2 linked regions of the Homo sapiens genome follow. The protein of the gene in region 1 interacts with the protein of each later gene in a pairwise test. Each region holds a gene or a part of one and is shown on either strand. Other genes may lie near its edges.

The links.
Region 2: the proteins of MAPK8IP1 (region 1) and MAP3K7 interact in binary tests that used the Homo sapiens proteins (3 or more experiments, as listed by UniProt).

Annotation. Positions count from the first base shown.
Region 1 is NC_000011.10:45,902,540-45,907,147, forward strand, and holds the end of MAPK8IP1 (C-Jun-amino-terminal kinase-interacting protein 1), read left to right. Parts: coding exon 1-645; intron 646-825; coding exon 826-901; intron 902-1,449; coding exon 1,450-1,622; intron 1,623-1,915; coding exon 1,916-2,025; intron 2,026-2,178; coding exon 2,179-2,295; intron 2,296-2,431; coding exon 2,432-2,502; intron 2,503-2,611; coding exon 2,612-2,710; intron 2,711-3,109; coding exon 3,110-3,182; 3' UTR 3,183-3,926; downstream 3,927-4,608. Other genes in the region: FREY1 (protein Frey 1), read right to left, coding at 4,030-4,151, 4,330-4,403, 4,606-4,608. UniProt on the Homo sapiens protein: The JNK-interacting protein (JIP) group of scaffold proteins selectively mediates JNK signaling by aggregating specific components of the MAPK cascade to form a functional JNK signaling module. Required for JNK activation in response to excitotoxic stress.
Region 2 is NC_000006.12:90,542,051-90,549,343, reverse strand, and holds part of MAP3K7 (mitogen-activated protein kinase kinase kinase 7), read left to right. Parts: intron 1-1,166; coding exon 1,167-1,297; intron 1,298-1,956; coding exon 1,957-2,086; intron 2,087-4,711; coding exon 4,712-4,792; intron 4,793-7,293. UniProt on the Homo sapiens protein: Serine/threonine kinase which acts as an essential component of the MAP kinase signal transduction pathway. Plays an important role in the cascades of cellular responses evoked by changes in the environment.

The sequences.
Region 1 (4,608 bases):
GTCGGGGCCACTCGCATCGAGACCGAATCCACTACCAGGCCGATGTGCGACTAGAGGCCACTGAGGAGATCTACCTGACCCCAGTGCAGAGGCCCCCAGACGCTGCAGAGCCCACCTCCGCCTTCCTGCCGCCCACTGAGAGCCGGATGTCAGTCAGCTCCGATCCAGACCCTGCCGCCTACCCCTCCACGGCAGGGCGGCCGCACCCCTCCATCAGTGAAGAGGAAGAGGGCTTCGACTGCCTGTCGTCCCCAGAGCGGGCTGAGCCCCCAGGCGGAGGGTGGCGGGGGAGCCTGGGGGAGCCGCCGCCACCTCCACGGGCCTCTCTGAGCTCGGACACCAGCGCCCTGTCCTATGACTCTGTCAAGTACACGCTGGTGGTAGATGAGCATGCACAGCTGGAGCTGGTGAGCCTGCGGCCGTGCTTCGGAGACTACAGTGACGAGAGTGACTCTGCCACCGTCTATGACAACTGTGCCTCCGTCTCCTCGCCCTATGAGTCGGCCATCGGAGAGGAATATGAGGAGGCCCCGCGGCCCCAGCCCCCTGCCTGCCTCTCCGAGGACTCCACGCCTGATGAACCCGACGTCCATTTCTCCAAGAAATTCCTGAACGTCTTCATGAGTGGCCGCTCCCGCTCCTCCAGTGAGTCAGCAAGGGGAAGCAGTGGGGTGGGGGGGTCCCTAGCGGGGGCAGAGCCAAAATGCGAAGTGTTCTGGGAGGCGACCCCAGGCCCCATCTGGTTAGGACTGAGGCTTCTACCTGCCCCGCTAAACCTGGATCAGAGCTGCGACCCCCCATCCAGCCACACCACCTCACCTGCAGGTGCTGAGTCCTTCGGGCTGTTCTCCTGCATCATCAACGGGGAGGAGCAGGAGCAGACCCACCGGGCCATATTCAGGTGAGAGCCATGGGCTGGCTGGGCCTAGCCAGGCAGCAGTTTGGGCCACACACCACCCTCTACTTGTCACCCCTACATGGCCTCAGCCTAACCCCTGCCATCAGCCTTCATTTATCCACTCAGCCCTGGGAGGACAGTGTCCACTCTCTAGGGACTCAGAGTATGGTGACAAAGAGGATGGCTACAGTGAGGGATCCCAGAACTGTGCACCTAGTCTGGCCAGGGGCAGGGCACCCAGGAGGGTGACCAGGAGGATGCCTGCCCACACCCCACCTGACCCTTCTCTAGACAAAAGCCTGCGCTTCCCACAGCCTCTCCATTTTAGAGGGGGCCCTGCCCACACCCTCCCTTGGCCTGTGTTTCCTCGATGGCAGATGCATGTCTGCTTGACCTTGCTCTCCCCTGGGGTTAGTACTGCAACAGGCACACAGGATGCTTTTGCAAATGTTTACTGAAATAACGATGCTGCTGTGGCTCCCAGACCCCAGAGTAGGCCTGGCTGGACAGGCCTTGGTGCCGAATTTCTCACCTGTCCTTGCTGGGGACAGGTTTGTGCCTCGACACGAAGACGAACTTGAGCTGGAAGTGGATGACCCTCTGCTAGTGGAGCTCCAGGCTGAAGACTACTGGTACGAGGCCTACAACATGCGCACTGGTGCCCGGGGTGTCTTTCCTGCCTATTACGCCATCGAGGTCACCAAGGAGCCCGAGCACATGGCAGGTAGTGTTCCCTCCCTGGCCTGTGCCCCCAGCCACCACATCTGTCTGCCCCAACTTGCTGCTAGGTGAACGTGTACTCCAGATCTCAGCCAGCCAGGTGGGGGGCTGAGTGGAAGTGATTTTAGGTCCTTTTCACGATCAAGCAAAGTGAGGCCCGGCCAAGTTGGGCAGCCAGGGATTGTGGCAGCCTCTGTGGGCTCTGCCATTCCCCGTGCCTCACCCACCCTCCTTCACTTGGCTGCTCAGCTCCCTCCTGCTCTTTCTGCCCCTCCTCAATTCACGCTTGCTTTCCAGCCCTGGCCAAAAACAGTGACTGGGTGGACCAGTTCCGGGTGAAGTTCCTGGGCTCAGTCCAGGTTCCCTATCACAAGGGCAATGACGTCCTCTGTGCTGCTATGCAAAAGGTACCTGAGCCCTCTCCCTTCTCCTCCCTTGGATGGGTCCCTGGGGCAGAGGGACGCAGGTGTCTAGAGGCAGTAAAGGGCTCAGGCCCTGGGACAGGAGGGATCAGCAGAGGAACAGACAGCAGCTGACGTGGCTCCATTTGTCACCTGTAGATTGCCACCACCCGCCGGCTCACCGTGCACTTTAACCCGCCCTCCAGCTGTGTCCTGGAGATCAGCGTGCGGGGTGTGAAGATAGGCGTCAAGGCCGATGACTCCCAGGAGGCCAAGGTGACTTCTTCCAACCCAGCCCCTTCCTTCCATGGCCCCAAGCTCTCCCCCAAGACTTGTGATGAAGAGGCCATCTCCTGTCACCCTCACTGCAGGCCAGGTGACCGCCCTCTTGCTTCTTTTCTCCCTCCTGTAGGGGAATAAATGTAGCCACTTTTTCCAGTTAAAAAACATCTCTTTCTGCGGATATCATCCAAAGAACAACAAGTAAGTGGGGGTGGGATGGCAGTGGAGGAGGCACGGGTGGTCTGCAGCCTTGAGGTGGGTGGGTGTGGGCCGAGCCCCCGTCCCAGCACAGACAGACCTGTCCCTGCAGGTACTTTGGGTTCATCACCAAGCACCCCGCCGACCACCGGTTTGCCTGCCACGTCTTTGTGTCTGAAGACTCCACCAAAGCCCTGGCAGAGTCCGTGGGGTACGTGTACACCCTGCTGAGCACCCAGCCCGAGGGAGCACGCCCAATCCCAGGCCCTGGGGCTGCTTCCTGGCGCTCAGCTTTGCCCCTCGGTTTCCCCCGCAGCTCTGGAGAACTATCTCCGGACCCCAGTGCGGGTGGCCTGGAGGGAGGGTGGCGCGGCAGGGTGAGCCTGAGGAGCAGCTTCCAAGCTTGGTAGCTGTTGGGCCATGTCTTCAACTGACATCTTACTGGGAAACGCGATGGCAATTCTGTAGAGAACAGAGCCAAGTGGCCCCAGCCAGAGGAACCAGAGCTGCACTTGGGCCCCAAGGCTCCAGCGGGAAAACCCTGGGTCGGGATCCTGTTCCTCCCTTGCCAGTGGCGATCTGAGCCATCTGTGTGTCCCCTGGCTTCTAGGAGAGCATTCCAGCAGTTCTACAAGCAGTTTGTGGAGTACACCTGCCCCACAGAAGATATCTACCTGGAGTAGCTGTGCAGCCCCGCCCTCTGCGTCCCCCAGCCCTCAGGCCAGTGCCAGGACAGCTGGCTGCTGACAGGATGTGGCACTGCTTGAGGAGGGGCACCTGCCACCGCCAGAGGACAAGGAAGTGGGGGCCGCTGGCCCAGGGTAGGGGAGGGTGGGGCAATGGGGAGAGGCAAATGCAGTTTATTGTAATATATGGGATTAGATTCATCTATGGAGGGCAGAGTGGGCTGCCTGGGGATTGGGAGGGACAGGGCTTGGGGAGCAGGTCTCTGGCAGAGAAGGATGTCCGTTCCAGGAGCACACGGCCCTGCCCCATCCTGGGCCTTACCTCCCCTGCCAGGGCTCGGGCGCTGTGGCTCCTGCCTTGATGAAGCCCGTGTCCTGCCTTGATGAAGCCTGTGCCACCTGCAAGTGCCCGCCCTGCCCCTGCCCCAACCCCCACCGAAGAGCCCTGAGCTCAGGCTGAGCCCAGCCACCTCCCAAGGACTTTCCAGTGAGGAAATGGCAACACGTGGAGGTGAAGTCCCTGTTCTCAGCTCCGTCATCTGCGGGGCTTCTGGGTGGCTCCTGCCACTGACCTCACCGGCATGCTGGCCTGTGGCAGGCCTAGGACCTCAGGCGGGGAGGAGGAGCTGCCGCAAGGCCCTGTCCCAGCAGAAGAGGGAGGCTTCCTGACTGACACAGGCCAGCCCCATCTTGGTCCTGTCACCCTGGCCCCAACTATTAAAGTGCCATTTCCTGTCTGGACTGCAGTGGATGTATCTGCATGGGCCCCTCCCGTCCCCGTCTCGCTCCCAGCCCAGGAAAGCCAAGCCTTTGTCACACATGGTATCTTTATGAGGGCCTTGGGTCATAGGTGTGCATCATAGTAATACTCGGCAAGGTCGGGCCCGTCCCGCTTGCGCTGCTGGGCCCTAGACAGGAGGGGTCGAGGCCCTCGCGGCCTTGGGTGCTTGGGGAGGATGCCATAGTCTAAAGAGAGAAAAGAGGGCATGGGTGGTAGGGGGCAGCTGGCTCTGATGGAACTGAAGTCACCCTTGAACAGATGTGGTTTGGGATGACAAGCCCCTGAAGGCTGGACTTGGGGCACCTCTTAGGGGCGTCTCCACTGTCAGGGATGGGTAGGGGAAGGGGACAAGAGAGATACTACCATCCACCAGGCCGGAAAGTGGCTGCGAGAGTTCCAGGGGGGCGGAAAATGCCTCAGGAACAGACCGCTGAGACCTGTGGGAGATGTCGGGGTGCTCAGCCCTGGCCCAGAAGGCCACCGCCACCTCCTTGTGAATGGGGGGATGGCTCAGTGTGGGGGCACTTGGCAAGCCCTCGAACGCCCAGGGTACCAGGGCCAGCCCCACTCCAGAGAGGGGAGGGGCAGCACCTCCACCATCCGGCCCAAGTGCCCTGCCCTCTGTGCCCCAGGAGTCACCTC
Region 2 (7,293 bases), on another chromosome or scaffold:
CCTATATGTCTTAATTTTATACTGTAGCCTCTCCTCAGACTTCAAACACCTCCTCGCCACTCCTCACTCTCAGCTGATCTTGTTTGCTCTTTCTCTGAGAAAATTGGAGTAATCGGAAGACAGCTTCCACAACATCTGTGCCCATCTACTCTGCTTTCTTCTGTTACTCTGGCTAAACTATCCATACTTCTGGCCAAAGGTGTACCTTTCTGCCTGTGCATTATATCCCATCTGCTCCTCTGAGCAATTCTCCCCTGTCTCTTGCATCATCAGTTTTAGCTTTCTACTGGATCATTCCTAAAACATACGTAGTCTGTATTTGCATTCACTAGCTTCTCTTTTCCCCTTCTTTCTTGAGCTGACTCCATTCAGACGTATTATGCCAGTACTTCAGAATTGTTCTTGTCAAGGTCACTAGTTATCTCTACATCACTACATTTAAGGAATCATTTTCATTTCTCATCTTGACTCTCAGTAGCACTTGACCTAATTCATTACTTTCTCCTTCTTACAGACAGCACTTTCTTCAGTTGGCCTCCGAGATACCATACTAGCCTAGATTCCATCTTACATCTCTGGCCGTCTGTTCTCAGTTTTCTTTGCTGGTTATTCCTCATCTCCCCAACCTAGAAATGTTGGAGTGCCCAGGGCCTGCTCATTTGGCTTCTTCACTTATCTGTCTGCACTCATTTCCTTGGTAACCTCATTCATTATTATGGCCTTATATACCATCTGTTGGCTCATAATGTTTTCCATCTTATACCTGAACTCTATACTCATATATCCAACTATTTCCTTTACATCTACTAGAAACTCAAACTTAATATTTTCCAAACTGAGTTCCTGATACTTCCTTCAAACTCACTCTTCCTTTAGTCTTTCCGCATCTCAATTAATAGCCCTCAGTTCTTCTACTAGCTCAGGTTAAAAACCTTAAGTTATTCTTGACTATTAGAAGACTATTTAGGCATCTTGGTTCCTTTTTTGTGCTATCCTTAAGTTTCTCTTAAAATGGGTTTGTTTGGATATCTTCATTAGCTTGAAAAGTCTTATTTTATTTCTGTTCCTGCCTGGCTAGTTTATAAAAGAATGTAAGTTACATAATACCAAGTGAAGCATTTGTATTATTTCCAGCCATTAGTCATAAATGTTTCTGCTTTTCCTAGGCTCATTCATGGACATTGCTTCTACAAATACGAGTAACAAAAGTGACACTAATATGGAGCAAGTTCCTGCCACAAATGATACTATTAAGCGCTTAGAATCAAAATTGTTGAAAAATCAGGCAAAGCAACAGGTTTGTTATGTTATTACAAGTAAAACTGGTAACCTTACCAGTAGTCACAATATTATACTAACTGAAATTAATTATTTACCATCTTCTATTTTATAAATCCTGAATTTTCTTCCTGAAACATGCAAAAGAGCTTACAAATAGAGACACGTAATGAGATTCTCCTACCATTTATTACCAAATGGTTTTTCCTTCTAATGATTGCTACCTTTGCCAATTCTAAATCCCTATCTATAATAATCCCTAAATGTAATGGTTGATGGTTAAAAATGTAAAATGGGTATATTTTGGCTGCGCTGCCCAGTTAGAGGAGTTGTTCTAAGTCTATCATTTCATGCTGTTCAGATTTATTATATTTTTGCCATTGTTGATTTTTAAAAATATTTCAAGGAGTGAGTTTATTCATTTTGCCTGAGGCATTTAGGTTAACGAATAATTGGGGCTTTTAGCTCCCAGTTCTAGTGACTGCCTTTTCATAAAGACAGTATCTGCAGCTTGCTTTCCCTTACCCCTGTAGCTCCCTCTCGTACAAACTTCCCTCTCCTTTCAGAGCAGAACAGGATCTATCAGAATCCCATTTGCCATCTTCCTCCTTTTAGGTTGCCTAAGATTGCTAAATCTAAAGAACTTCAGTAATTCAGATTGACCTGTAATTTTAACAGAGTGAATCTGGACGTTTAAGCTTGGGAGCCTCCCGTGGGAGCAGTGTGGAGAGCTTGCCCCCAACCTCTGAGGGCAAGAGGATGAGTGCTGACATGTCTGAAATAGAAGCTAGGATCGCCGCAACCACAGGTAAAAAGGAACTACAAGTCTGAAGAGTGAAAATGTATATAAGCCTTTTTGGCCATGGTAGTTTCAGTTGTCAAAGGTTTTTTGTGTGTGTCTTATATTTTTTTTTAAATAGGAAGTAGGTTTACAATATATTTTTCTAAGTTACTAGCAATAGTTTATGCATTTATCTCAAATTCCAAATAAGGAAGGTATGACTTGTAAAATTATTTGGATGAGAAAGTATGCCTTCCTCATTTACAGATTTTATCAAATGTAATTCTTTCTGCTCAAACATGAGTTGAAAGTCTAAGTGAGAAATTGAAATTCTGCCAAAACCAGAATATTTTGGGGATTTTCAGTGATACTACTAGATTTTTGTGCTGAACTCAAATAATAGCAAATATTTTGTTTCAAATTTAACAGAAAAATGTATTCCAGATCCATGTATGATTTGACCTTCTATCTGCTTCTTCATTCCAGTGACAAAATAATAGCTAAGCTGGTTGTGGTTAATTTTTTTAATTGTAAAATAAAATATCATAATTTTATTAGATCTTGAAAAAGCTAGCATTTAAATTCCATTGTTCAGTTCTTAAAATTATTAATCATGGAAGAACTGGTCAGCACAAAAACAATTACATGTTTTGTTACTTAAGTAAACTGACAACCTAATTCTGTGACCAGGTTTCATTTTAGTAATGCTGGTTTAATTTGGACGTTTTTGGTTTTTTGCTGATTCTTTCCAGGGATCAGGGGGAGCTGATTTTAAAAGTAAACACGTTTCTGTTGTGGAAAATGTGGAAATGTAAACAAGCCAAAAAAACTTACATAATTACCCCACTCAGAGATAAACACTTAACATTTTTGTGTATTTACCCCATCTTTTAACTATGTATGTGTATAAATGTATATATTCATGTGTATTTGCATCTTTTTTAACTTAGCTAACCAATTTTTTAGGTCTTTTTTTCACTTATTTGGTTTTTTTCTAAATAGAATATTCTCATTGTGTGTGGAGCTCTTTTCAGAAAGAAGTTGTCAAGATGGACCATCATACTATACTTGTCTTCAACTAATCATGATCATTGATTTTATCAGCTACTATTAGAATCCATTAGATATAACAGAATATCCGAAATAACAGTGTCTATAACACATAAGCATTATTTTTCACATATAAACAAGTCTGGAGGTAGTGGGCTCTGTGATCTTGAAGTAACTGGTCTCCTATTTCTGTGCTGTAATCCCTACTGTATAGCTTCCATTCTCAAAGTTATCCTGTGCTCCAAAATGGCTGTTGAAGTTCCATTTCATCACTTCTACATTCCAGGCAATAGGAAGGAAGACATGGGGGCAGGGCAAATAGACATCCAAGTTCTTTGAAGGAACATTCCCAGATGCCTCTCTTAACAACATCCACACATCATTGGTCAAAGTAACATGGTCGAATGGCTACACGTAGCTCCAAGGGAAGAGGAGATCTGCCCTCTTTTATCTGATGACTTTTCTGTCCTAAATAAAATCAGAGTACTATTGCTAAAACAGAAGGGAAGAGTGGAAACTGGCAGAAGATAGCTGTGTCTGCCACAGATGGGTCTTCAGAAACTATCAAGTTGAGTAGAAGTCACCAGCCACTGACAAGCCCATGAGTCTCCATGAGTCACAAGTATTTCTTTGGAGCAGGGTTGTCTCACTGTAGTGTCAGATGAACCCTACTCACCGGGACATACCCTCATGCTTTGAGGAACCCTTTTCACTTCAGGGATGTTGTTCAGGATAGATCTGCCACATACTAATTGCTGTCTCAAAACTGAAAATTGTTATAATAATGGTTTCATGTCTTCGCTAGTATCATATTTCTAGTCAAGCACTGGTTTTTTATTATTATTTACAGAAATGACTTTGCTAGAAGGATAACCACACACATTAAAATTTTGCCTAAGTGTAGAACAAATGCTATTGTACATCCCTTGAGTTTTACACAATTTAAATTTTTTCATGAATTGTCTTACTTGGAAAGAGTCATACTTTCCAGCCTTTTGACAGACTTTGTGTTTACTGTGAATGTACCCTAAACTTTGGAAAATATAATAAATATTTGGTACTAGAAATATGTATAAGTATGACTACAAAAGCATATACATTTCACACTTTGATTCAATAATTATTATTTAATCATTGGATTTTACTTTATAGCACACTTCAAGAAACACCTAACTTGAACATGTATTCCTGTGTTTGTGTAATTAAAACAAATACGACAACTTACTTTTTAACGCCTTTCTTCCTCTCCTCCTTCGTTCCCCCACCCCCATCACAGATCAGTGATTTCACTTAGGTAGACTGTTTCTATGAATATATTTGAAATTTTGCTTCCTCATTACCCTGCAGCTTTGTCTCTGTTCTTTTTATTTTTTTCTGCTAATTAAAACCAGTGTGTAAAACATCTTGTATTTGGTAGTTGTTTGCTCTTTAATCTCGCCTTTTCTGAGCATGGATGAAAAGTTAGGTAGTTCTGCATGCCATTCTGCATGAAATGTTATTAACATGAACTATTTGAAAATGAGTCTATTTTTGTAGTTAATCATTTTCCGTGTTACTGTTTGTGGTTGTTTGCATGTATACTGTATATATGTGTTTTTGCAGCCTATTCCAAGCCTAAACGGGGCCACCGTAAAACTGCTTCATTTGGCAACATTCTGGATGTCCCTGAGATCGTCATATCAGGTATCATAGACCACCTGAGTTGGTCTAATAGCTGTGGAACCGGAATAATGATCCCTGGTACTTGTAAAATGCTTCTTGCTCCAATTTTTACAAGACATGAAAATGGATACCTTGCATGCAGTAATTAGGGAGACAGATTGAAAAACTACATTTATTCTGAAGCAGTCTTGAAAAGATACCTCTGATCTACAATAAGTGAGGATAAAATAGAAGAGAAAGTAAACCTTTTTGGAGAAGGGAGAACACCAACCCAGAATTCTACCAACTTCCTCTCTACTTTTAAGTGAGCACATGAGCTAAACCCAGACCTTTTTTGCACCCAACAGAAAGAGGAAACAACTAATTAAAATTTGTTATTTTCCTTGGCTCCTTTCCTTCCTCAGTTACTGCTTTTTGGGTCCCCTCTAGACTTTCTGTCCTAACCTCTTTCTGTTGGTAGCAAGTGAATGTGAAGTTGAGAGAAGAGAGTTGCTAAATAGCATTTTGCCTTAACCTGGAAAACAAAAAGTAAAGCTAAATGAGATGTGCTGTTTTGCAGGGTATCTTGCCAAAGAATCATGTAAAATAGTTGGTCAATTCTGATTTTTGTGTATTATCAGGAGAATCTCATAAATTACATGTTTTTATACCTAACTTACACATGGTACTTTAGTGTCTAAAATTGGTAAACTGCTTTATTTCTTATGGTGATCATTTCATAGAGGAATATGTTACCATTTTTAATAGAAACTTAAATGGCATATTGACCTTCAGTATTGATTAATGTATTATCAAAATTATCATTTATTTATCCCTTTAGGCTTTTCTCTACCTCTTTACCCAAAATCTTGATAAGGAAATACATATTTTCCACACACGTTCATGAGTGCGAGTTGGATGAATTCTTCAGCATGCTGTCCTTTGCCTGTGATTGTGTTTTTAGCAGTGTTGATAATTCTAGTTGAATACCTAATGGTTATTTTCTCCTCTACTAAACTGAAAACTATGTAAGGATAGAATCCATATCTTTGTGCATTATTTTGTTGTTGTTGCTTATTATTGATTGTATCAGCAGTTGCTGGCTCAGTGCTTCACATATTAAGCATATTAACATAGTGTTTAATAAATACATTTATTAAATAAATGAACAGACCTATTGAGCATCTCCCCTGGTGAGAAACTAGCATACAAAAATATGAATTATACTATTCTTAGGTGCCATTTTGTCTGTATAAAACTATCTTATATTAATTTTCCCCTGGTTATCAAAGTGGTTTCTTATTTTACAACATCATTACTATTGCTATTCAAAGAGTAGAGTTAACCCATTTTTCACATGGTAATTTTTATTTATTGAATCTGGACTGCTTCAGAAATTAACAAAGAGATCATTTTACATGGAGATCAGTTTACCTCCATGCGGAAAGGTACTGTGTATAAGGGACGTACTTTAAAGAGGTGGAAGCATTTAAACTTACATACCGCTGAACTGTGCTTCCCTTAAATGTTTGAGGGAATCAGGAAAATTTAGACAGATGGCAGTGTAATCTTATGACTAAGCATTAAGAATAAATTTATATATGGCAGCGTAGCCCACGCTATACAAGATAATGGGGGAGGGAAAAATAAGGAAAGAATAATAGTTTATAACTGTCAGGTACTACTGGCATCTAGTGGGCAGAGACCAGGGATGCTGCTAAACATCCTGATGTGTACCAGGCAGTCTTCTCCAACAAAGAATGATCCAGCCCAAAATGGCAGCAGTGCTGAGGCTGAAAACCCCTGATTAGATGTTCTTTGTGCCCTACAAAGTAGCTTAAAGTACATCTTATTTTACCTTTATACAATCTTACAACTAGGTTATCGGATGAAATTATAGCTGTTTAACAGACGAAGAACTTAGATCTGATGATGTTTAGTGGTTTTTCCAGAATCATATAGCCAGGACCCCAACCCAGATCTTCTGACTCCAAGTCACATCCATTTTTTGTTCTTTTGTTTAAGTCAGAGAAGCTAGAGTAATTTCTTCTTGCTTTCTCTTAGTGTTCACATTAAGGAGAGCTCTTCAGCCAGGGAGATCCTCTTTTATGACATTGGGCCTTTATGGAATCAGGTAACCTTAATTCTCTTAATTGCCAGAGCAGCAGTGCTATTCATATGAAAATATTATTCAGTAATACCTTTTATTAAATATTCTTTTTAGGCTTTTCCCCCCTCAGATATCAAACATTAACTTACTCAGGTGCACTTTCTTTAATAGAAGAATACAAGCTGTAGAATTGACACTAGTGGACATAAAAGCCAATCATGAATGTGCTCATAGGTAATGTTTTTAAATTAAATATAAAAATACCGCCCATCCTTTGGGAATATCTCAAATTTCCTACATGACATTTTAATTGTAAAGAAGGGTGATACTTAATTTCCAAAATTTCTTAATACTTTCTAGAAATTGTTTTGTTCTAAGTGGATTTCCCACAAGCTTTATGGTATTAGCAAATACTTCTTGATATATTCAAACT